3 linked regions of the Homo sapiens genome follow. The protein of the gene in region 3 interacts with the protein of the main gene of each other region in a pairwise test. Each region holds a gene or a part of one and is shown on either strand. Other genes may lie near its edges.

The links. The genes of interacting proteins can lie anywhere in the genome.
Region 1: the proteins of TXNDC12 (region 3) and KLHL2 interact in binary tests that used the Homo sapiens proteins (3 or more experiments, as listed by UniProt).
Region 2: the proteins of TXNDC12 (region 3) and SGTA interact in binary tests that used the Homo sapiens proteins (3 or more experiments, as listed by UniProt).

What each region holds. Positions count from the first base shown.
Region 1 is NC_000004.12:165,203,071-165,210,828, reverse strand, and holds the start of KLHL2 (kelch-like protein 2), read right to left. Parts: upstream 3,269-7,758; 5' UTR 3,008-3,268; coding exon of another isoform or gene 2,953-3,007; coding exon 2,927-2,952; intron 811-2,926; exon of another isoform or gene 687-810; coding exon of another isoform or gene 649-686; intron 1-648. UniProt on the Homo sapiens protein: Substrate-specific adapter of a BCR (BTB-CUL3-RBX1) E3 ubiquitin ligase complex that mediates the ubiquitination of target proteins, such as NPTXR, WNK1, WNK3 and WNK4, leading most often to their proteasomal degradation.
Region 2 is NC_000019.10:2,766,006-2,773,503, forward strand, and holds part of SGTA (small glutamine-rich tetratricopeptide repeat-containing protein alpha), read right to left. Parts: intron 3,087-7,498; 5' UTR 3,064-3,086; coding exon 2,964-3,063; intron 1,682-2,963; coding exon 1,575-1,681; intron 1,216-1,574; coding exon 1,131-1,215; intron 1-1,130. UniProt on the Homo sapiens protein: Co-chaperone that binds misfolded and hydrophobic patches-containing client proteins in the cytosol. Mediates their targeting to the endoplasmic reticulum but also regulates their sorting to the proteasome when targeting fails.
Region 3 is NC_000001.11:52,052,192-52,059,341, reverse strand, and holds the start of TXNDC12 (thioredoxin domain-containing protein 12 precursor), read left to right. Parts: upstream 1-4,150; 5' UTR 4,151-4,245; coding exon 4,246-4,342; intron 4,343-6,658; exon of another isoform or gene 6,659-6,935; intron 6,936-7,150. UniProt on the Homo sapiens protein: Protein-disulfide reductase of the endoplasmic reticulum that promotes disulfide bond formation in client proteins through its thiol-disulfide oxidase activity.

The DNA.
Region 1 (7,758 bases), on a different chromosome or scaffold from region 3:
TCTTCCTTCAACTTATTATGAAAATCCTTTATACAAATAACTATAAAAGCCAGACTGTAAAATACATTCCTGAGGTCAGGGCTGGTCAATTTACATTTCCTTTTGCACATCTCAGTTTACCATCTGAAATTCCTTTACTAATCTACATCTAAACTACATCTCTCAATTTACTACCTGAAATTCCTTTACTAAGCTACATCTTTTAGTTACACATCTTTCAGGTTTGATCAGAAGCAAATGTAACACAGTCTCAATATCACCCAGACCCAGAATGCAACAGAATCTAAATGCCACATATACTCAAGTATGCAAAAAACAATAAGCACAAATATATAGTCCAACGACAATTTTTAATTATATGAGAATTAAAAAGGATGAAAGTTGGAGGCAAGGAATAGAAAAAGCACAAAAGATCAAAAGCTAATTTCAAGGAGTCCATCCTGAAGGAACCAGGAATGGTGGGTACAGATGCCTGACCTCCCTCCAAGACAATGTGCCAACAGGCCAGTGGAGAACAAGGTGGGATCTGAGAACAATGTAAATTTGGATGTTAAAAGAGAACACAAGCAAAAGCACCACGCACAGTGCCAGGCAGAGACAGGCATTCAAATATTTGCACATTGAATGAATTAATAAACAGACACTTACACAAAGAGAATCTGGGGCCGTGCTTCCAACCATACCATAAGGCACTTTAAGTCCAGGTCATCTTTCTTTGACTTAAAGCTCAGGCTAAAAATCTAACTTCATGAAAAGCTGAGTCTTCCTAATAGTTTCCACTGGCCTCTGTTCTAGCCCAGCTCTGGCAGTGAGGCCCGGTAAAGTTCCTTCCTAAAGACACTGCCTGCAAGTCTCAAATCCGGCACACGGGATCCATGGTGGAGGGATGTTAATGGGAGTGGAGGCAAACAGGCCAAGGGGTGGCAAGGAAAAAAACTATTTCTGATCCACAGAATGGCAAATAACACCATAACGAGTTCTTGAATTAGGTTTAATCCTGGACAGAACCAAATGAAAATAAAAACCTACTTGTATTTATAATTAAATAGACAGAAACAATGAAAAAGTCTCACCAACTTTAGCCACCCCTGATTGAAAGGAGTTTTAACAATTCTTTCATCCATGCTGGCATTCCAAGTTTTCCATTATATCTCAGCCTCTCATTGTTCCAGCACTATTGATGGAATCTCAATGCCAAAAATGGCGCTGGTCATCAAAATTATGATTAGCTGATCTACCCTAGAGTCAGTTTATCAATGTTTCAATGCATACATCAATTCTATTTTTTATTATTTCAATTTAAATCATCTGTGTCTCTATTCCCTCCCTCCCTCCAGAGGCTGCTTTCCCACACCCTTCTTTTCACCTGCATTCTAAGTATTCCCTTGTTCTTTCCTTTAGCTCCCTCTGTTCCAAAAGTAAAAACGAACTGCAGGAACTTATGTAGAAGGCAGGTTTACTACAGATAGCATACCTACATGTTACATATTATATACCATATGTTGGCTAAATACAGCTAGCATATCCTGCTTTAAGTGCTTCTGAGCCTGGGCAGACCCCCGTGTGCTCATGCTGCTGATGTGAACCATCCACCATCATATTTCCTAGGGGTTCAGGTGCCTTCCTCCAGCCTGCTGAAGAACATGACCAAATCTCAGAGCCCTCAAAGCCACAGCTATCGAGAGGTGACTAAGCCCCTGCTTCTGTCAGCCCAGGAAGGCCAATTCAAGAGTCTTATCTACCCCCTAGATTTCCACGACCTGTTCCACTCAAGCTAAAAATTCTGAAACGCACTTTTAGAAACTGTCGTTCCAGAATCCCATTAGCTCTCCTAAAAGGGCTGAACATCAAAAAATTATTCAACCCAAGCCAAGTATCCTTATTTTGGCTGGAATTCTGCCAAATAACCACAAGAGACTGGTGCGGTACAATCGGCATGGAGTGAAGCTTGCCAAATTTGACCGGAGAACGACAAGCCTCCATGAATAAGCTCTCATGAAAAGGTAAACCATTCTTCAGGATGAGGTTTGTCTGCGATTTGAAAAGTCAGATTCAAAGGACTCTTGTTCCTTCCTAAGAGAAGAGGGAACCAAAATTGAAATTTTCGAAACTCCTGGGTATTTACAGTTCACTTTTACCAAGATGTTTTTAAAACTAAAAACTAAAATTTAAAAAAAAAACCCTTGTTCTGAATAATGCAATAATGTCTTCTACATAATGTTTCAGCTATTATTTCTAGAAAGTAATTCTGTTGCCAGTGATCTTGAATGTACTTGGGTACCAAAGAAAAAAGACACCTGTGCCTGGCAGGTCGATACGCTACTAATTTGCCCGAGGTACGAACGAAACAGAAGATGCTGATTTCTGGATAAAACGTTCTGCAGTGCCAGGTAAAAGAGGTCACATGCCCTGAACGGCCGCCGCTCATTTAGAGTGATGCAAAAGCTCCTCAGATATTAATTTTGTTAGAAATTCGGGGAATCAAGCAACCTAAGATCAATTCATTTAGACAGCGGGTGACTGGTACTTTCCAGTTTCCTTTTTTCAACGGACTCAGTGCATCCTAGCCTGATCTCTTATAAAGGGGTAGGCAAACTCGGCACCAGGTGCCCATGCATTTCAGGGAGGTACACACAGGACCTGCAGGGTCACCCATGCACAGCCCCACCCCGAATCTTCTATCCGCCCGAGATGGGGAAGACCCTTCCCCAGAAATCCTGGGCAGCGTTTTAAGTCACCGCCTGGCCAGGCTGAGTTTCCGTCCGCGTCCGCTCAGGACTGCGGGCACAGCGCCTCGTCACGCCCCGCATCTCCCACCTCCCGCCGGCCCCGGCGGCTGTCCCCAGAGCTGCGCCCGCGGCCGGCGACACGCGCCGCAGCGGCGCGCTTATCCGCAGCGGCGCAGCCCGCCCGCCCGCTCACTCACGCGGGAGGCAGCGGCGGCGTCTCCATTGTGGCTCCTCTCGGGCTTCAGAACGCAGGCACCGACCAACACAGCCAGCACCATTCCAGCCGCGGACGCCGGCACTGCCCGCCCGCCGAGCCGCGTTCCATCCGCCCCGGAGGGGGCGCCGCGCTCTCCTCACCGCGCGCCACCACCTGCGGCGGCGGCCCCCGCGGCCATGGCCCGCTCGGCCGGGCGCGCTCCGTCTACTGCGCGGCTCCCGCGCTCGCCCGAGTGCGGGGCGGCGGCGACGGGACCGGCGGGCGCGCGGGCTCGGCCACTTCCGGGTTCGGCCCCGGCCGGCGCCGACGCTGTGACGGGACTGCGATGCGGCCTCCCGCGGCGGCCGAGTACCCCTCCCTCGGCGCCTCCCCTTCCTCCTGCTGCTGCTGCTGCCGCTGCCGCTGCCGCTTCTGCTTCTGGAGGCGGGCGGGCGGGCGCCAGCCGGGTGCGGGGCGGGCGTGCCCAGACGCTGGCCCGCAGGCCGGGACGCGGGCGGCGGCCGCCCACAGCGGGTCTCTGGATCGCCGGGACGGGGGCGCTGGAAAATGGGAGCGGAGGGGGTTCTCCGTGCAGAAAAAGGGCGGCCGAACGCACGGCGTAATAATGCTCGGTATCCACTTGCTGCTCTGCTTCGCGGGCGTGTACACGTTATTCTTTTCATTTGTGCCTGTACCCAGGGAGATGGGAAGGGTAGGCATAACCAACCAGTGTCCTTACAAAGGGTGGCACTGAGGCAAGAAGAAGTGATTTGCCTGTCCAGTGTCCCAGGCAGGAAGCAGGCTCTCCCTCCTCAGTATGCTAGCCATTCCTTGGACAAGTGAAGTGAGCACCTGCTAAGCAAGGTTTTAGTGCTGCGGCTGTGACAGCAAAACCAAGTCTTTCTGCTTGTGGAGCTGTCCATCTAGACGGGGTGACGGAAACAGTAAGTGATGCTTACCATGAAGAAACATAAATGAGGATGAGGAGAGGGAAAGAGATTTTAGAAAGAGTGGTCAGAGAAGGCCTCTCAAAAGGCATGAGTTAAAGAGATGGAATAACAGGGGCTTTGAGTAATGCAAAGAATGCCTAGGGCAGAGGGAAGAGCAGCGTGGAGACTGCTAAGCAAGATCCTGCCTGCCTTGTTGAGGAACGGGAAGGAGAACAGTGCAGCTGGTGGTTCTCCAAGTATGCCCGCTGGAAGCAGTAGCACCTGCGAACTTGTTAGAGATGCGAATTTTCCAGTCCCACTTTAGCCCTACTGAACCAGAAACTCTGGGGGTGGGGCCCAGCAGCGTGTGCTTTAACAAGCTTTCCAGATGATGCTTGCTGGGGCCGCGAGGGTGGGAGACCCTCTAATGAAGCAGAGTGAGGTCAGGAGGACGGCGGCAGGAATGGGTGTGGCGAGGAGTAATCACAGATCACCCAGGCCTTGCAGGCCGTGATAAAGGACTTGGCTTTTACTGAGATTAGAAGCAATTAGAAAGTGGTGAGTAGCTTGATCTGATCATTAAAAGGATGACTTTTCTGGGATTTGTTTGAAAATATCCCACAAAAAGAAGGACAGAGGTCGGGCGCCGTGGCTCACGCCTGTAATCCCAGCACTTTGGGAGGCCGAGGCGGGCCGATCACCTGAGGTCGGGAGTTCGAGATCCGCCTGACCAACATGGAGAAACCCCGTCTCTACTAAAAATACAAAAAATTAGCCGGGCATGGTGGTGCATGCCTGTAATTCCAGCTACTCGGGAGGCTGAGGCAGGAGAATCGCTTGAACTAGGGAGGCAGAGGTTGCGATGAGCCGAGATCGTGCCATTGCACTCCAGCCCGGTCAACAAGAGCGAAACAAACTCCGTCTCAAAAAAAAAAAAAAAAAGGACAGAGAAGTGAATAGATGAATATTTGCAAAATGTTAATTTTTGAGGCTAAGTGTTGGGTGCATAGGGGTGGTCATCATTTATGTGTGTTTATGTGTATGTTTTAAAAGATAATAATGGGCCGGGCGCGGTGGCTCACGCCTGTAATCCCAGCACTTTTTGGGAGGCCGAGGCGGGCGGATCATCTGAGGTCAGGAGTTCAAGACCAGCCTGTCCAACATGGCGAAATCCCGTCTCTTCTAAAAATAGCCGGGTGTGGTGGTGGGTGCCTGTAATCCCAGCTACTGAGGAGGCTGAGGCAGGAGAATCACTCGAACCCAGGAGGCGGAGGTTGCAGTGAGCCGAGATCGGGCCACTGCACTCCAGCCCAGGCAACAGAGCGAGACTCCGTCTCAAAATTCATAAATAAATAAAAGTTCATAATACAAAGTTTTTTTTAAAAAAAAAGATGACTGATTGCTGTATGGGCAACATGCATAGCGAGGCAAGAGAGCAAGCAAAGAGATTAGCCTAGCTGGGATGAAAGGTAAGGATGGCTTGGATTAGAGTCCGAGTGACTGAGAAAAGTGAACAGGTTCTGAATCTGTTTAGAAGGTAAAGTACTCAGGAACTGCTGACAGATTAGCATATAAAAGAAAGATGATCCTAAGGGTTTTGTTCTGATCTCTGGGGAGAATTGAGTTGCCCTTTACTGGGATTGGGGATATTGAGAAAGAACAAATATTGGAGGGCGGGGTGGAGATTGTATTTGTAAACTCTGATTTAGATATGGTAAGTTTGAGATGTCTGTTAAACATCCATGTGAAGATAGGTGTAGACAATTAGATATATGTATCTGGGGTAGATATAAATTTGGAAGTTGTTAGTATACAGATGGGTATTGAGATCAACTAGATTATGTAGCTAGAGAAAAGAAGTAGACCAAGAAGTAAGCCCTGGGGCACTCCAACATTAAAAAAGAAGAGGAGGAGGACTCAGCAAAGGCGATGGTAAAGGAACAACCAGGGAAGTAGAAGGAGATCCAAGGCAGGTGTCTTGGCAGCCTAGTGAAGGGTTCCAGAAAACAAACAAACAAACAAACAAAAAACCCTTAGTACACTTCAGCATGAGCTAACTTCTCTGTATGATGGTTCTGTTCAGAGCCATAATAAAACTTCCTACTTTACAAGGTTGTTTTAAGAATTAAGTGAAATAATTGATGTAAAGTATATAGCACATAAATGTATAATGGAAGCACTTAATAAATGTTAGTTGCTGCTATTATTTCTGTACACTTCTGTGGCCATCAGTTATACCTTACTCTGCTAGGAACTGGGTTAAGTCCTAGAGCCAGGAGATACTGACTTAGGTTTTACCAAACCTTTGGCCTGACTTCCTTCTGCATGCAAACTCAGTGAGTAGGGCTGACTCATCAGCCATTTCAGGAACTCTTTTGAGGCGGGGGGTGGGAGGTGGACTTTTTCTATTGCTTTTGTATCTTCCCACCCAAAATAGTGTTATGTGTACAAATAAATACTAAAAAATTACGATGTGTCCGTCTGACAGCTAGGCACATAACTTCAAACCATAGCCCCTCTCACATCCTCCTCTGGGTTAGTTTTGTCTATCATAATTCTTTGCTTAAGGGGTTCGACTCATCTAGCATGCTAAATGTCAACCCAAACCTTTCTTTTTTCACAACCACCCCCATTTGTAGGCTTCACAAGTATACTGGGAAAGAGTACATTACCCACATACAATTCAGCCTTACTTGGAGTTAAATGTCACACCAAAACTGGTCCTCAGCCAGATACAGCCTCCACCCTTAACCTGTCTCTCTGCTCACAAGAGAAAGTAAACAAAAATGCTTGACAGGCTGAGCCCAAATCCAACATTACAGTGGGGAAGAAACTTTTTAACACTTCTTCCTTTGACTCTCAGTTTCACTATCTTCTCAAGTGAAGGACACTAAGGATTAGGAGCGGCTACCTAAGACCACCAAGCTCTTCTCTTTTTCATTTCCCTTGACATAAGGTCTGACTGAACATGCAACGGTGTTGACCTCCCCTTGCGTAGGTTATTACCTCCACCCACGTTTTCATCATTCTTTAGCTGAGCCCTTCACACCCTTGGCAGAGGAATGAGATCTTACAAAAGTCCATCTGCCTCCTATGCTGTTAAGATAGAACAATTCCTTAAGCATGTTAGTAACCATAATCTAAAGCTAATGTAAGTAAATGGAATGTATCACTTGTAAAGAAAATGGAACCACTCAGATGAACAAGTCCGTGACAGTGGCTAGTGGCAAAAATCCCTTAGATTGAGCTGAAATCAGATGTTGCAATAGAACTAATGACATGACATGGCAGGCACAAACACATCTCATGGCAAGTATCCGGGAGCTAAGAATTGCTCCTATAAAGAAAAGACTTAACTTCGCTGAAGAATACAAAACCATTAGATGCTATATTTGTAATTCCTTCCAGTGCAAAGATGGCAAGTATGAAAAGATTCACTCATTCAAAATTAGGTACTAAAGAAGATAAAGGCCTTCTAAAAAGTCGCATTTTCTATCCTAAAGACTTAGTTTAAGTTGCTTTACTAATTTTAAATTAGGGATTTTGCTTTTAATATTTTGACTTAGGAGAAACTTAGCAGCATAATATATTAAGAAGCATTTCAAAATGTTCTTTTGATACTTTGCGGTTTAGCAAATGGATTTGTCAATACATTAAGATATGTATTACAAGCTTTATGGTGTCAAATGGGGTGACGTGCGTCTTGTGCTCCAGATCAATAGACAATCCTTAAGTGATGGAGTCCATTGTTTCCATGAATCCAATTTACTCTTCAAATGCTTGCCTCCTTGTTTTTGTAGTCTGTAAGATAGCAACTTTACTTCCGACACAGCATACCTCCCCATTACCCCGTATCTGAGCTTCCTGGAGAAATGAATGCAAATTGTTTGCTGCAAAATTTAAT
Region 2 (7,498 bases), on a different chromosome or scaffold from region 3:
CAGGAGACCAAGACCATCCTGGCCAACACAGTGAAACCTGTCTCTACTAGAAATACAAAAATTAGCCGGGCGTGGTGGTAGGCTTCTGTAGTCCCAGCTACTCAGAAGGCTGAGGCAGGAGAATTGCTTGAACCAGGGAGTCAGAGGTTGCAGTGAGCCGAGATCACGCCACTGCACTCCAGCCTGGGCGACAGAGCGAGACTCCATCTCAAAAAAGAAAAAAAAGAAATGGGATCACATGCTGTGCGTCCTTTTGTGTCTGGCCTCTCTCCCTGAGTGTGATGTCTTCACGGTGCATCTGCGCTGGGGCCTGGGTCAGAGCCTCACCCATCCACATTCCACCGTGTAGATGGGCCATGCTGTGCTGACCATTTAGCGTGGACAGGCATTTAAGCTGTTTTTGCTTCTTTTTATTGTTTTATTTTTTATTTTTTATTTTTTTTTGAGACGGAGTTTCACTCTTATCGCCCAGGCTGGAGTGCAGTGGCGCGATCTGGACTCACTGCAACCTCCGCCTCCCAGGTTCAAGCAACTCTCCTGCCTCAGCCTCCTGAGTAGTTGGGATTACAGGTGCCCACCACTGCACCTGGCTAATTTTTTTGCATTTTTAGTAGAGACGGGGTTTCACCATGTTGGCCCAGGCTAGGCTTGAACTCCTGACCTCAGGCAATCTGCCCGCCTCGGCCTCCCAAAGAGCTGGGACTGCAGGTGTGAGCCACCGCGCCCGGCCTCTTCTTGCTTTTTGACTCTTGTGAATACAGCTGCTGTGAACATGTGTCTGGGTTTTGGTGGACATGTGTCTCTCTTGGGCACATATCTAGTATCAGGGTGGAACCGGCGGGTCTCATGGAAGCTGTGCAACTTTTGGGGGCCACCAGCCAGTCTTCCACAGGGGCCGCTCCCGACAACCCCACCAGCCGTGCTGTGCCTGAAGGTCAAGTTTCTCTGCACCTCGCCAGTCCCCTCGCCAGTCCCCCTTCCGTCCCCGTCCCCACAAGCCAGCGTGCTGGTCATCAGGGCAATTCCCTCAGCTCCCTGGGCCCCAGGGACCAGCTGGCCTCTGCGAGGGTCCCACAGCCCCGGAGTCCAGGTAGGGCGAGGTGTCTGTGGGGATGGAGGTCCTCCCTTACCTTCGGTTTTGAGGCGCTCTGCCTCTGCTGAGTCCTCCTCGGAAGGCGGGGTTCGCGCGGGGCTCCTCAGGTCCTGCGGCATCTCCTGGACCCGGAGGCAAAGGCGGCCCGCTGTCCTCTCCTCCCAACCTGGCACCCTCCGGCCTTAGCTTCCCTCGGGACGCCAGAGAGGGCCACCAAGTTCCGAAGGACCCGGGGGCTCTGCAGGGGACTCCTGGCCCCCCATCATGTGGCCCTGGGCGAGTGACCACAGCGCTATGTGTCTCAGGACCCGCCGATAGGGGGAGGAGGGCCAAGTGCTCCTGCAGCCACGTCCCCAGCCCAGGAGAGGATGCAGGCAGAGTGCTGGGGGACGATGAGAGCGGGGCTCCTGGGGTCCCCAGGGCTGCCTGCTGTTGCTGTTCTTATTTTGGGGGCAGTGGCTGGGGAAGCATCGAGGCTCACCTTGCCCGTGGCAGCCGCTTCAAATATCTCCGGCAGAGTCTGAGGGAGCGCAAGGTCACTGTCTTCTACCGTCACCCCAAACGCAGTCTCCAGGCACTGGATGGCGACTGAAGCGGGGACAGAGGCGGTCCCATTCATTGCACGCAGCCCCGAGGTTACGTTTTTGGGTCTAGAGGGCGGGGTTGGTGCTCATGCTTCCCCAGGTGTGTTCATTCCCAAGGACCCCAGAACGCAGGGGCCGCCGCCTGTGCTCTGGGCTGGGACAGTGGACCCTCTTCCTTCCCGAAAAGAAAAGCCAGACAGAGACGCCCCGTGCCCCTGAGAGCAGCAGAGGCCGTGGGCAGAGTGGAGCCCAGGTGGTGACCTCAGGCCTCTGTGGGGTCCCAATGCTGGGGCTGCCCGGCTGCGGCGTGGTGGGGGCTTGGCCCCACCTGGAGGGCCACGTCAGGGGTGAGGTGCCCCGGATGCTGTTGCACCTCCAAGGGCGCCTGGCCTGAGTAAGGAGCTTGAAGCCAGCCCCCAGTAGAAGGCCTGTATGACTGGGTCTGTACCAGGGCAGGACCATTGAGAGCAGGACAAGAAACAGCCACAGGGCCCCTCTCTCTGCTGGCCCACCTGACAGACTCAGCACCCAGGGGGCCCTCCCACCGAGCCAGACAACACTAGCCCTGGCCGCCTCCTCGTGTGGACCCAGGGTCCTAACCCAGGTCAGAAGTGGGGGTCAGCCACTTCCTGCCCAGCACTGTGTCAAGGACCCCGGGCACATCCCTACAGCTGTCACTGGGTGTCCATGCTACAGAGGCCTGGCAGGCCCAGGACACAGGTGAGCGAGGCATAGGTGGGGAAGGAGGACCTAGAGCAGAACCTGCAGCCACACGAGGGTGCCTCCCCGAGCCCTCCTTTCCCTCCGAGCCCCGGATCCAGGTGTCGCAGAAGCGCAAGCAAGACCAGCCAGGAGACCAAGGCACCTGGGGAGCGGACAGGCCATGCAGGATGCCAACGAGTCTGGGACTCTGGGGCGGGGCCAGCACTAGGAGAGCTTTTTCCCCGTGACCGATGGTGACACACACACACTGGGTGGTGAGAACATTCCAGAACACACCTTGGTGGAAGATGGGGAGATGGAAAAAAGCCACTGGAAGGCAGCTCAGCCTGAAGGCATCAAGCAGTGGTGGCGCCACGCAGTGGCAGGCGGGAGGGCTCAGCTCGGCCCTGGCTCCCACGGCCGGGGGCTGTGTGGCCCTGGGCAGACCCCTGCCCTCTCTGGGCTTAGCTTCCACCCCCAAAAAGCCAGGCGGGGGACCAGGCATCTACACACCAGGTGTCTACACGAGGCGACTGTGCTGGCCGCTGCCCGGGGAGAGGGGGAAGTGGCAGGCACCCACCTACCTTCCAAGCTCTCCTGAGCATCGGACGAGAGGCCCCCGTGCCGGAGCTGGTCATGCAGGAACTGGATGATGGCGTAGGCCAGGCGCTTCTTGTTGTCCATCTTGAGCCCAGAAGAGGTGATACCTGGGGGTGCAGGAAAAACCCCCATCAGGCCCCCTCACACTCCCCACTCCAGGCACCCCAGGCCTGCCCCTAACTAGCTGGGCCTCACTTTAAGGGTGCTGGCTGATCTCAGCTCCAGGACAGCCCAGGTAGAAAGGCCTTAATACGCCCATTTCACAGATGATGACCTGAGGCCCAGAGCTCACCAATCCGGCTATGCACACAGCCAGAAAGTGTGAGGCCAGCAGGCAAGCAGGGCCTGCCCTAGAGAACCCGCGTGCTCCCAGGGCCTCCTGAGCACTCCCAGGGTGGTACTGAGGCGCCACGGAGGTCCCCTCCGCCCCTGCTTCTGGCATGAGGTGGGTGGGGGCCAGGGATGCTGCCCAGCACCCTGCAGTGCCCAGGACAGCTCCACTCCAGAGAACGATCCAGCCCCAATGTCCACAGTGCTGAGAGGGAGAGACCTTGTCCTCAGCCAGAGCCACTGCCCCTTTCCTCAATTTACCTCTTTTGTGGCATGTCAGCAAGCATTTCTTAGGTACCCAACGGGGCCAGGTGTGCCTGCCCTGGTATCACTGTTTCACAGGACTTGCAGAGGACTCCCCCCAGGGACTTCTTGGGGACCCGTCTTGTTCCCCCTGGGAGGCCTACCTACCTCATTCCACCTCAGACCCCCCTCTAGTTCCCCCTCGGACACCCTCCTGTGCCCCCCTCGGACACCCGCCTGGTTCCCCCACCTGACACCCTCCTGGTTCCCCCAGCGGACACCCTCCTGGTTCCCCCAGCGGACACCAGCCTGGTTCCCCCACCGGACACCCTCCTGGTTCCCCCAGCGGACACCAGCCTGGTTCCCCCACCGGACACCCGCCTGGTTCCCCCCTCGGACACCCGCCTAGTTCCCCCCTCGGACACCCGCCTGGTTCCCCCCTCGGACACCCGCCTGTGCCCCCCTCGGACACCCGCCTGTGCCCCCCTCGGACACCCGCCTGGTTCCCCCCCGGATACCCTCCTGGATGCCCCCTCGGACACCCTCCTGGTTCCCTCTCAGAAACCCTCCTGGTTCCCCCTCGGACATCCGCCTGGTCCCCCCTCGGATACCCTGTCTTGTTCCTCATTCCCAGGACTTGACAGCTGCTTCTGCTCATGTCTGTGGTCCCTGCAGTTTCCTGCCAAAGCTCTAAAGGGTGCCAGATGGTGACATCAGGAGAGGCTGTTCTGGAATCTGGAGCTGTAGTCTATGGACAGGTCTTTTTTTAGTACAAGACCTTTCACACAGGTTTCCTGGGTGCCTGGGCCAACTTGGAGGGGCCTCGGCCACAGTGACCTTCACGGCTCTGAGCAGGAAGCCCCGACGTGAGCTTCCCCCGGGGCAGGCTGGCCGGCTGCCTTGAGGCGCCAGCTCAGGAAGGCTTGGCCTCACTGTGCCTCCATTTCCCCCGAAGGCTGGCGATGGTGACTCTAAACATTCAGATGTAACAAGCTGCGTGGAGAAGCAGCCGCCCCCGCCCCCGCCGCTGGAGCAGCCAAGTTCTGGGCTAGTCACGTCCACCTGGGACCTGAGCACGGGACCTTGTCTGTGTCTTTGCAGATGGAAACAAGTGGAGATGAGGTCGCTGTGGTGGCCCTAATGCAGGGATTGAACATGGCCGCACGGAGACGGCCGCGTGAAGACGGAGGCAGAGGCTGAGGCCATGTGGCCACACGAAGAGAGGTGAGGCTCGCTGGCCCCCAGCAGCTGGAAGAGGCAGGACGGAGCCTCCCTTGGGGCCTTCAGAGGGAACGTGGCCCAGCCTGCACCTTCATCTCAGACTTCTGGCCTCCAGAACTGCGAGGGAAATCAATCTTGGTTGTTTTAAGCCAGCCGGGTTGTGAGGGAGAGGCCAGGCGGTTCCCGGATCGTGGCCTGCAAAGCCTGTGAGCTCGGACGGGTTGTTCGGCCTGAGCCTCCGCCTCCATGTCTGTAAAATGGGGAGCTCCATTGTGGCTGCTGTCAGGGGTCGGGGAAAAAATAACCCGGAAGCTGTCAGCCCAGCGCTTGGCGCCCTGCGATATCTGTTGTTAATATCACGATTCTGCCAGGCGTGGTGGCTCACGCCTGTAATCCCAGCACTTTGGGAGGCCGAGGCAGGCAGATCACGAGGTCAGGAGACAGAGACCATCCTGGCCAAACACGGTGAAACCCCATCTCTACTAAAAATACAAAAATTAGCTGGCATGGTGGCACGTGCCTGTAATCCCAGCTACTCGGGAGGCTGAGGCAGGAGAATCACTTGAACCAGGGAGTTGGAGGTTGCAGTGAGCTGAGATCACACCACTGCACTCCAGCCTGGCAACAGAGTGAGACTCCATGTCAAAAAAAAAAAATCATGATTCCTCGTGGTGAGTCTCGTGGCATAGACCTCGGTTGGCTGTTTTTGGCAGTGTGACCTAGGGGAAGCGACTTAACTCTGCTGAGCCTCAGTTTCCTCTTCTGTCCCCCATGGATGGCGACAGCACCTCCCCATCGGGGGGGGGGGGAGGGGTACGAGACCAGGCGTGCACAACGCTGAGTGAACACCCCCACACAGGCAGGTACGTGGACGGGTGCTGGTGCACCCTCCGTGTCCAGATCAACACATGCTGAGGCTATTCCAGAAACGCTGCCCGGCTGTGCAGTTTCACTGGGAGCATTTGGAGAACCTGCTCTGAGGCCAGAAGCAGGCATGGAGAGGGGTTGCTGTGGTGCTGGCGCATGGAGGGGCAGCCCTTGGGGAGGCCCTGGCCGTGGGATGGGACCCCCATCCTCTGTTCTTGCGATGAGGTTCCCTTGGCTGGGCCTCCCTTCTCCACCTGCTCCTTCCGGGCTGGGCTGGGCAGCCGCCTTCCCTGGAATCCACTCCCTGTCCAGGGCCTCTGGTGTCTCTGAGCAGCTGGGTCTTCCCCATCTCTGTCCCTCACTGGCTGACATACAGGGTGGCGGGGCTGTGTGTCACCGGCCTTCCTCCGGGGCCGGGCCCAGCCCGTGCATAGTGGACCTTATTCTTAGTTGCACTCTGTGTGCCAAGACGCATGAGGCAAGGGGCAGGCCTGAGGCCTCAGGAGCTGGGGAACCACCGTGAGGAGAAGCACAGGTTTGAGATCAGACGCTCGGATTCAGGCTGGGTCAGACAGGGCCTGGCCAAGAGGCCGCCAGCCTCGGGATGGACGAGGAAGGGCGAGGCCTGAAGGAATCTTCTACAGTGACAGCTGCCTCTGGATAATTTCTTATTCTTCTCTGCTCTGTGCCCAGATCTGCTCTCCAAGAAGTGACTAAAGCCACAAACACCTACAAGGAAACTCTGACCCAGCACCCAGGAGGCCACGGCTCCTCCTTCTGAGCCAGCACAGTGCAAGGGGTCTCTGCCGCCAGGTCCCACTCCCCAGCTGGGCCCCAGGGACCCTCTGCGCGCAGCCACGCTGACAGGCGGCTCCAGGGGCTGAATACTGTCGTGTGCTGAACTGTGTCCCCCAAATCCATACACTGAAGTCCTAACTGCCAGGACCTTGGAATGCGACCTCACCTGGAAATAAGATCTTGGCGGACAGAATTTGGTAAGATGACATCATACCAGTGTACGGCGGGTCCCTAGAGCAATAACCAATGTCCTTATAAAAAGGGGACATTTGGATGCAGACGCATGCACAGGGAGAACACTGTGTGGATGTGAAGGCAGAAATGGGTGACGCGGCCACACGGCAGGGACACCGAGGGCAGAGATGGGTGACGCGGCCACAGGGCAGGGACACCGAGGGCAGAGGTGGGTGACGCGGCCACAGGGCAGGGACACCGAGGGCAGAAATGGGTGACGCGGCCACAGGGCAGGGACACCGAGGGCAGAGGTGGGTGACGCGGCCACACGGCAGGGACACCGAGGGCAGAGGTGGGTGACGCAGCCACACGGCAGGGACTCCGAGGGCAGAGGTGGGTGACGCGGCCACACGGCAGGGACACCGAGGGCAGAGATGGGTGACGCGGCCACACGGCAGGGACACCGAGGGCAGAGGTGGGTGACGCGGCCACACGGCAGGGACACCGAGGGCAGAGGTGGGTGACGCGGCCACACGGCAGGGACTCCGAGGGCAGAGGTGGGTGACGCGGCCACACGGCAGGGACACCGAGGGCAGAGATGGGTGACGCGGCCACACGGCAGGGACACCGAGGGCAGAGATGGGTGACGCGGCCACAGGGCAGGGACACCGAGGGCAGAGATGGGTGACGCGGCCACACGGCGGGGACACCGAGGGCAGAGGTGGGTGACGCGGCCACACGGCAGGGACACCGAGGGCAGAGGTGGGTGACGCGGCCACACGGCAGGGACTCCGAGGGCAGAGGTGGGTGACGCGGCCACACGGCAGGGACACCGAGGGCAGAGATGGGTGACGCGGCCACACGGCAGGGACACCGAGGGCAGAGG
Region 3 (7,150 bases):
GAAATTCAACAAAAGGCTGTCTAGCTGTCAAGATATCAAGTAGTCATGTCCTCTATTCAAGGTCAGATGGTATGTTAATAATGGGGAAAGAGAACCAGGTTTTCAGACATTTGGTGCTTCTGCAGCACTCTCCAGAGTTCATTCAATACCCTGCACTGATATAGTATGTTATACTTGTCAAGACATTCTTGCATACAGGGTAAAATGCTTCATTGCACAATTTAACAAAAACATATCTTTGCTACAGTAATAAATGTTGGGGGGGGGCAGAGAGGAGACTCCTAAAACAAGCTTTTTAAAGTTAATCTTGATTTTGAAGATTCTAAAATTATAGTCATGAATCTAGTCTGGTCAGTGATAATCCCACTAAGAAAAAAACATTCTTAAGTTTATAATGGGTCATCACATTCCACATTACATAAACAAAGAAAAGCCAAATTCAGGCCCGGCACGGTGGCTCACGCCTGTAATCCCAGCACTTTGGGAGGCCGAGGCGGATGGATCACCTGAGGTCGGGAGTTCGAGGCCAGCCTGACCAACATGGAGAAACCTGTCTTTACTAAAAATACAAAATTAGCCGGGCGTGGTGGCACATGCCTGTAATCCCAGCTACTCAGAAGGCTGAGGCAGGAGAATCGCCTGAACCCGGGAGGCGGAGGTTGCGGTGAGCCAAGATCATGCCATTGCACTCCAGCCTGAGCAACAAGAGCGAAACTCCGTCTCAAAAAAAAAAAAAAGCCAAATTAAAAGTCTTGTTTTACTTGTTCTGCAGATCAACAAATCATTACTGAGATGTGAGGGAGGGAATAAGGGACTAGGTTGTTATCAAATCTTCTTTGGCCAATTCTCTAAACCCTGTATAGTCATCATTCACATGAAAAAAATACTGTTTGCTTCATTTGAGAGATTAAAAAAAGCAGCATCAAAGACTATATAATTACTAACCATTTTGTACTTTGACACTATCCTTAGGCAATAACCTATATATCTATCTCTTCTTTAAGGCTAATGTCCAGATCCCAAATAATATTTAGAATTTATGATTCTTCACTCTGCTCAGCGCTGTATCACAATGCTGAAGCAGCTAAAAACACTTTTATAGGAGGAAGTGTGTTTAGAGTCCAAAACAAGAAGTCTTAAATGTGTGCCAATCTTAGCTCTGCCATAGACTTAAATTTGATGACTTAAATCCCAATTCCTATGCTCAAATATCCACAGAAAAGGACCAACATTCACTTTTCTCAAAGGAATGTGGCCATGAGAGTGTAGTGAACTAACAAAGAGCCAAAGGAATTTATTGCAAAAAAAAAGGGGCTAAGGAAAAACATTAGACCTAGATACTTGGTAAACCCTTTGGGATTCTTCTGCATTTTGAAGTAACAATTCCCAAGAGAACAGACAGAGGTTGGGATGCCAAGACAAAGTCTTGACTTGTTTGAAATAAAAGCAAGAACAAAATTAACTCTTCAAATCAAGGTATAGATGAAAGAACAGATTCCATTCCAGGTGGTCAGGACAACAGAATTGAGAAATTTTGTTCCTAAGGAGTATCTCAGAGAAAAATGATTTTAGGGAGACTGAGAGCTCAAGGCAGTAGGGGAGGAACAAGAGTAGTCTTTTGTTTCTTGGCAAGTTGTGGTGTGTGGAATTCAAGTAGGAAAGAGGACTGGACTCAGTCTATGCGATGTCAAGCTCAGAATCTGGAGTAGACCTCCAAGATCACCTGGTTTAATTCTCTATTCTCAATCAACCTCTACTTTATTGCACCCATCATTCCTATCTGTGATGTCATCTCAACATCTGCTAGCACCAGCAAAGTATAAATTACAAACGAAACAGTTCCCTCCCTCCCATCTTAATAGATTAGGAAATAAGGGCCCAGAAGGGAGAAGTCCCTTCCTAGGCCCAAAAGGGAGAAGTAACTTCCTAAAGCCACATGATTAATGAGTTCTTCCTTGGGGATTCCAGGATCTTTTAGCACTGTTCTCAAGGACTCAAGAAAGGGTGTAAACAGGTTTATATTTATTAAGTGCCTAAGTTAGAAGCATTGTGGTAGGCACTTTCACATACATCATGTTTACACAGAGATAAAAATAATTGCAACCTTGAGTCCTGACTTTTTATTATGTAGGGTTTCTCTAAGACAAGCACAGGCTTTGGAATCAGAAAGACCAAGGTTCTACCAGTTGGGAAAGGTATTTTTCTTCTCTGAACTTGTATTCCTCCTGCATTTGGAAAGGTATAACACCACGTACTTCACAGGGTTGTTTTGAGGGTTAAAACATTATCAACCACAGGGAATGGTTCACAGAAGATACACAGTTACTGGTAACTATTGTTACCACTCCCGAGGGGACAACTATGGTAAACTGCAAGAATGTGGGAACGGAAGTTGAAACCGCCATTCACTAGCTGTGCAACACTGAGCCTGTCGGTCAGCAGGCAGTGGGAGGGGGGTTATAAAGATGGGCAAGGGACGCCGACTTGTAAACAAACACTGCCATTACAAGGTGAAGAGTGCTGTAACTGAGTTCGGTTCCCTGGACTCAAGGGCGGGAAGTGGTAACCTCAGCTTCCCTATCTGTAGACTGGGAGCATCAAATGAGATGACAACAGAGAGCCTGTATAAAGCTCAAAGCACACAACACTGCTGTTGTGAGCAAGGAGTAATGGAACAGAGGAGGGGCGTCCACCTGCCTCCTGGGACAGGGTCTGGGCGGCAACAGGGCGGGCCCGCTCGCTCCCACAGGGGGCGGTGGTGCTGGGGACCTTCCCACAGGTGCCGACCCCCAGCTGCGCCGCCGGTAACCGACAGGCCAAGCCAGCCGCCTCCGCCCCCGCTCGCCGCACCACGGCGGAAGTGGCAGCCTGAGCGGTTGGCGGGTGTCGGAAGGGGAGGGCGGGGGGAGACCGTGCGCAGCGGCCTATGGCCGTGAAGTGGCGGGACCGCCGGGGGTCTCACCTGAAGCAGGGAGGGTCCTCCAACACCAGCACGCGGCAAGAGAAAGATGGCTGCCTCAGCCGAGACAGAGAAAGACGACGGCGGCGGCGGCGGCGGCGGGAGCAGATCCACGTGATACAGCCGACCCCGCCTCTCCCTCTCCGGGGCAGCCTATCCCGGGAGCGAACATCTGAACTCCAACGCCCCGCCTGCTTTGCGCATCCCTCTTAGTGCTAGTGGCGGCAGGTGCAGGTGGCCGCGCGGCATCCTGGGGCTTGCAGTCTCCCGAGCGTTCTGTTGTGTCCCTGCCTACAATTTTAGGGAACCTAATAAAAGGGTGGTCGGTATGTTTTTATTTGGGTGTGTACTTTTGTTAGGTCGCTTTTTCGCTATGCATTAAGTACGGACTTTAGGACTCAACTAGTACCAGGAAGAAAAAGACCGGACATTTTCACCTGTTTGTTATACAGCGAAGGGGAAAAATTGGGAAGAAATCCTCAAGCTACAAGAAAAATAACCAGAAGCTTTACACTTTAGCCTGCAGTGACTTATATCCTGGTGTCCTAAGTCCACCTAAGTCAGTTTTGCAATAAGAGGTCCCAAGTTTGGTTTTCTTGGAGCTTGCATCAGTTGGTTGCATCATCCCTGAGTAGAAGATTTGCGGTTGCAAGGAAAAATAAGGTACAGAGCTTCTCCAGCGGGAAAGTGCATGTCTGCACGGCACGAGCCCACGCACCGCAGAACAGGCTTGCCAGGTCTCCTCAGAGACCCTCGCAGGAACCTAACAATGAAATCCAGTTGTCCAGTCTTGATTTGTGGAGGGGTAAGGAGAATCCGAGGCCAGTGGGCAATCCGCCCACTGTTGGGAGCGACTGACCTCACGAATCAATAATTTGCTTTTGACTAGGAAGTGCAGCGGTTCTTGGGGGGAGGGGCTGGACTGGGTGGCGGACGCGAGGAGCAACGGTTCTCCCGAACCTCTCCCCCGCCCCTACTATCTTGGCCTACATTTTCCCGCTCCGTCCCGGGACCTGGACACCCAGAATCCACGAAAAGCAACTCGCGCTCGAGAACAGCTCTCGTACCCTTCTACGTGATCTGCACCTTTAAGCTCACTCCATCCCAAACCGGACCCCGGAGGCACCACCCACATCCGTCTAACATCACTTCCTTCAGAGTTTGAAAAAAAAAAATCTGGGAAGTAGAGGTGTTGTGCTGAGCGGCGCTCGGCGAACTGTGTGGACCGTCTGCTGGGACTCCGGCCCTGCGTCCGCTCAGCCCCGTGGCCCCGCGCACCTACTGCCATGGAGACGCGGCCTCGTCTCGGGGCCACCTGTTTGCTGGGCTTCAGTTTCCTGCTCCTCGTCATCTCTTCTGATGGACATAATGGGCTTGGAAAGGGTCAGACCGCGTTCTTATCTTCTCTTTACTGATCTTTACTATACTGATCCCAGTATAATCTCTTCTTGCCCTAGCACCGTTCCCCTCCCATTCTAACTCTTAGGCCACTCCAGATTTCTTTTTATCTTCCCCAACCGCTCCTGGAGTTTGAAGATTTCTTGGGGTAGAGAGTAGCGGGTCTGGGGAATGGAGAAGTTGTACTTGAGGCCTCTCTAAATTATTGGATTGGGGGGAAGGAATGGCCCGTAAATTAAGGAAAGCATGTTAAGAGCCCAGCATAGTGCCTAGCACTTGGGAGGTCCTGAGGAACGGTCACCTTCCCACCTGGGAGAAATAGAGCCGTTGGGGACCTGCATATGCAGAGGACCCTGTTCTGGGTCTGAAGATTTCTCTCGTTACTTCTTCCGCGAAGAGCTAGGTTACTGCCACTTGCTTGCCTTTGGGAAACAGCACCTGCATCCCAGGTAGCTGTATCTAGTGCATAAGAAGAGCCAAGCGAATGGTAGAAGGTCTGCTGTTTAAGGGTCCCCAACAATTGTCCTTGCTGTGGTTCAGCGAAGTTTTTTTGTAAGTGAGCGATCAGTGGTTATGAATGGAGGTTAGGAGGTGTGGCCCCCTACTCCATCCATTACCTACATCTCCATTCTAAGTTTTAACACCTCTCTCCTCATCAGCCCTTACTTAGTTGAAAGTTGGACTGACAGTCTGTGAACTCAGAGTTTATGCTTTTCTAAGTAGATGAATTGTAGCATGGATCCCAACCCCTCTTCCTTTTTTTTTTTTCACTGACCTTACTGTATGGAATGATTCTGCTGCAATCCTTCTGTTTTTGTTTTCTCTTATCCTCTCTATTTTCACATCTATTGGTGAGTAATAAGATTGGGTGGGCATTCATTTTGCCTGAATGCAATCATTCCTTCATTCCGTAAATAATTTTTGATCACCTCCTATATTTCAGGCACTGTCCTAGGCACTAGGGATATAGCTGTAAACAGGACAGACAAGGTTCCTACTCTGGTGGAGCTTATATTCATGTCAGAGAGACAGAGTAGACTCATGAACAAATTAATAAGACAGTTTCAACTAGGAACAAGTGCTGGGAAAACAATAAGACTGTGATGGAATAGGAAGTAGAAAGGCTGGGGAGGTTGGTGGAGCTGGCATCACTTGAATTATGAAGGTCAGGAGAAGCTTTTTGGAGAAGGTGATATGTGGGTTTCCATCTCAGTGATGAAACTGCATGACAAATCCTGTTAGGCCAGAATGTTTTAAATACTGACAATCCCATTTTAAAACAGACTACCGTTTTTTTTTGTTGTTGTTTTGTTTTGTTTTTTAGACAGAGTCTCACACTGTTGCTCGGGCTGGAGTCCAGTGGCATGATCTTGGCTCACTGCAACCTCCGCCTCCTGGGTTCAAGCGATTCTCCTGCCTTAGCCTCCCGAGTAGCTGGGATTACAGGTGCCTGCCACCACGTCTGGCTAATTTTTTGTATTTTTAGTAGAGACGGGGTTTCACTATGTTGGCAAGGCTGGTCTCAAACTCCTGACCTCATGATCTGCCCGCCTCGGCCTCCCAAAGTGCTGGGATTACAGGCATGAGCCACTGCGCCCAGCCAGCTACTGTATATTTAAAGTTGTAAGTACTGAGAGTAACAGAAGAGTAGAGTGTTGGGTACGTGGGTTTAGATCTGAGTTTTTTCTTTGCTGTTTTTTCTGTTTGTTTGTTTGCTTTTGTTTTTGAGACGGAGTCTCACTCTGCCAGGCTGGAGTGGAGTGGTGCAATCTCGGCTTACTGCAACTTCTGCCTCCCGGGTTCAAATGATTCTCCTGCCTCAGCCTCCCAAGTAGCTGGGACTACAGGCATGTGCCACTATGCCCAGCTAATTTTTTTTTTTTTTGTATTTTTTTGTATTTTTAGTAGAGATGGAGTTTCACCATGTTGGCCAGGCTGATCTCAAACTCCTGACCTCAGGTAATCCTCCCTCCTTGGCCTCCCAAAGTATTGGGATTATAGGCGGGAGCCACTGCGCCAGGCCTAGATCTGAGTTTTAATTTGTTCTGCCACTCACTAGCTGAGTAGCCTTGGGCAAGTTTCTTAACTCTCAAAGCCTCCGTTCCTCATCTGCAAAATGGGCATCATAACTACCTCAGACACTCAACAAATAATTTGCTCTGTTCAAGTTACTGTGTTAGGTGTAGGTAATACCTTGGAATCAGGTATTTTGTATTTTTATTCCTTGTTAGATATTAAGCTTTGTGTGGTTGTTCCAGTTACCATTGTTGTGTAATAAATCACTCCAAAATTTAGTGGGCATGAAGAAATCATTTTATTATGCTCACAATTGTGTGAGTAAGGAATTCAAACAAGGCACACTGGGAAAGGCTTGTCCCTGTTCTATGATGACTGGGGCCTTGGCTAAGCTGGTTACCTCTCCATGTGATCTTTCCGCATGGGCTCCTATGGGTTTCCTCACAGTAGCTTTATGGGAGGCTGGATTCCAAGAGTGCGTGCCATAAGAGAACAAGGTGGAAATGCATGGCATTTTTGTCACCTAGCCTTACAAGGCACATAGCATCACTTCCACAGTACCCTGTAGGGGCAGATTCAAGGGAATGGAATATTAGGACCCCCACCCTCACCCCCAATGGGAGGTATGTTGAGGTCACATTGTAAGAAGGGCATATCTGCCACAGTGAACCAGGACTATTTCTGTCTTGTTCATGCTCAGGAATATTTGTTGAAAGAGGAAATGAATGATAAACATGATAATTGTGATTCCTGTCCTTTTTCAGCTTGCAGTCTGGT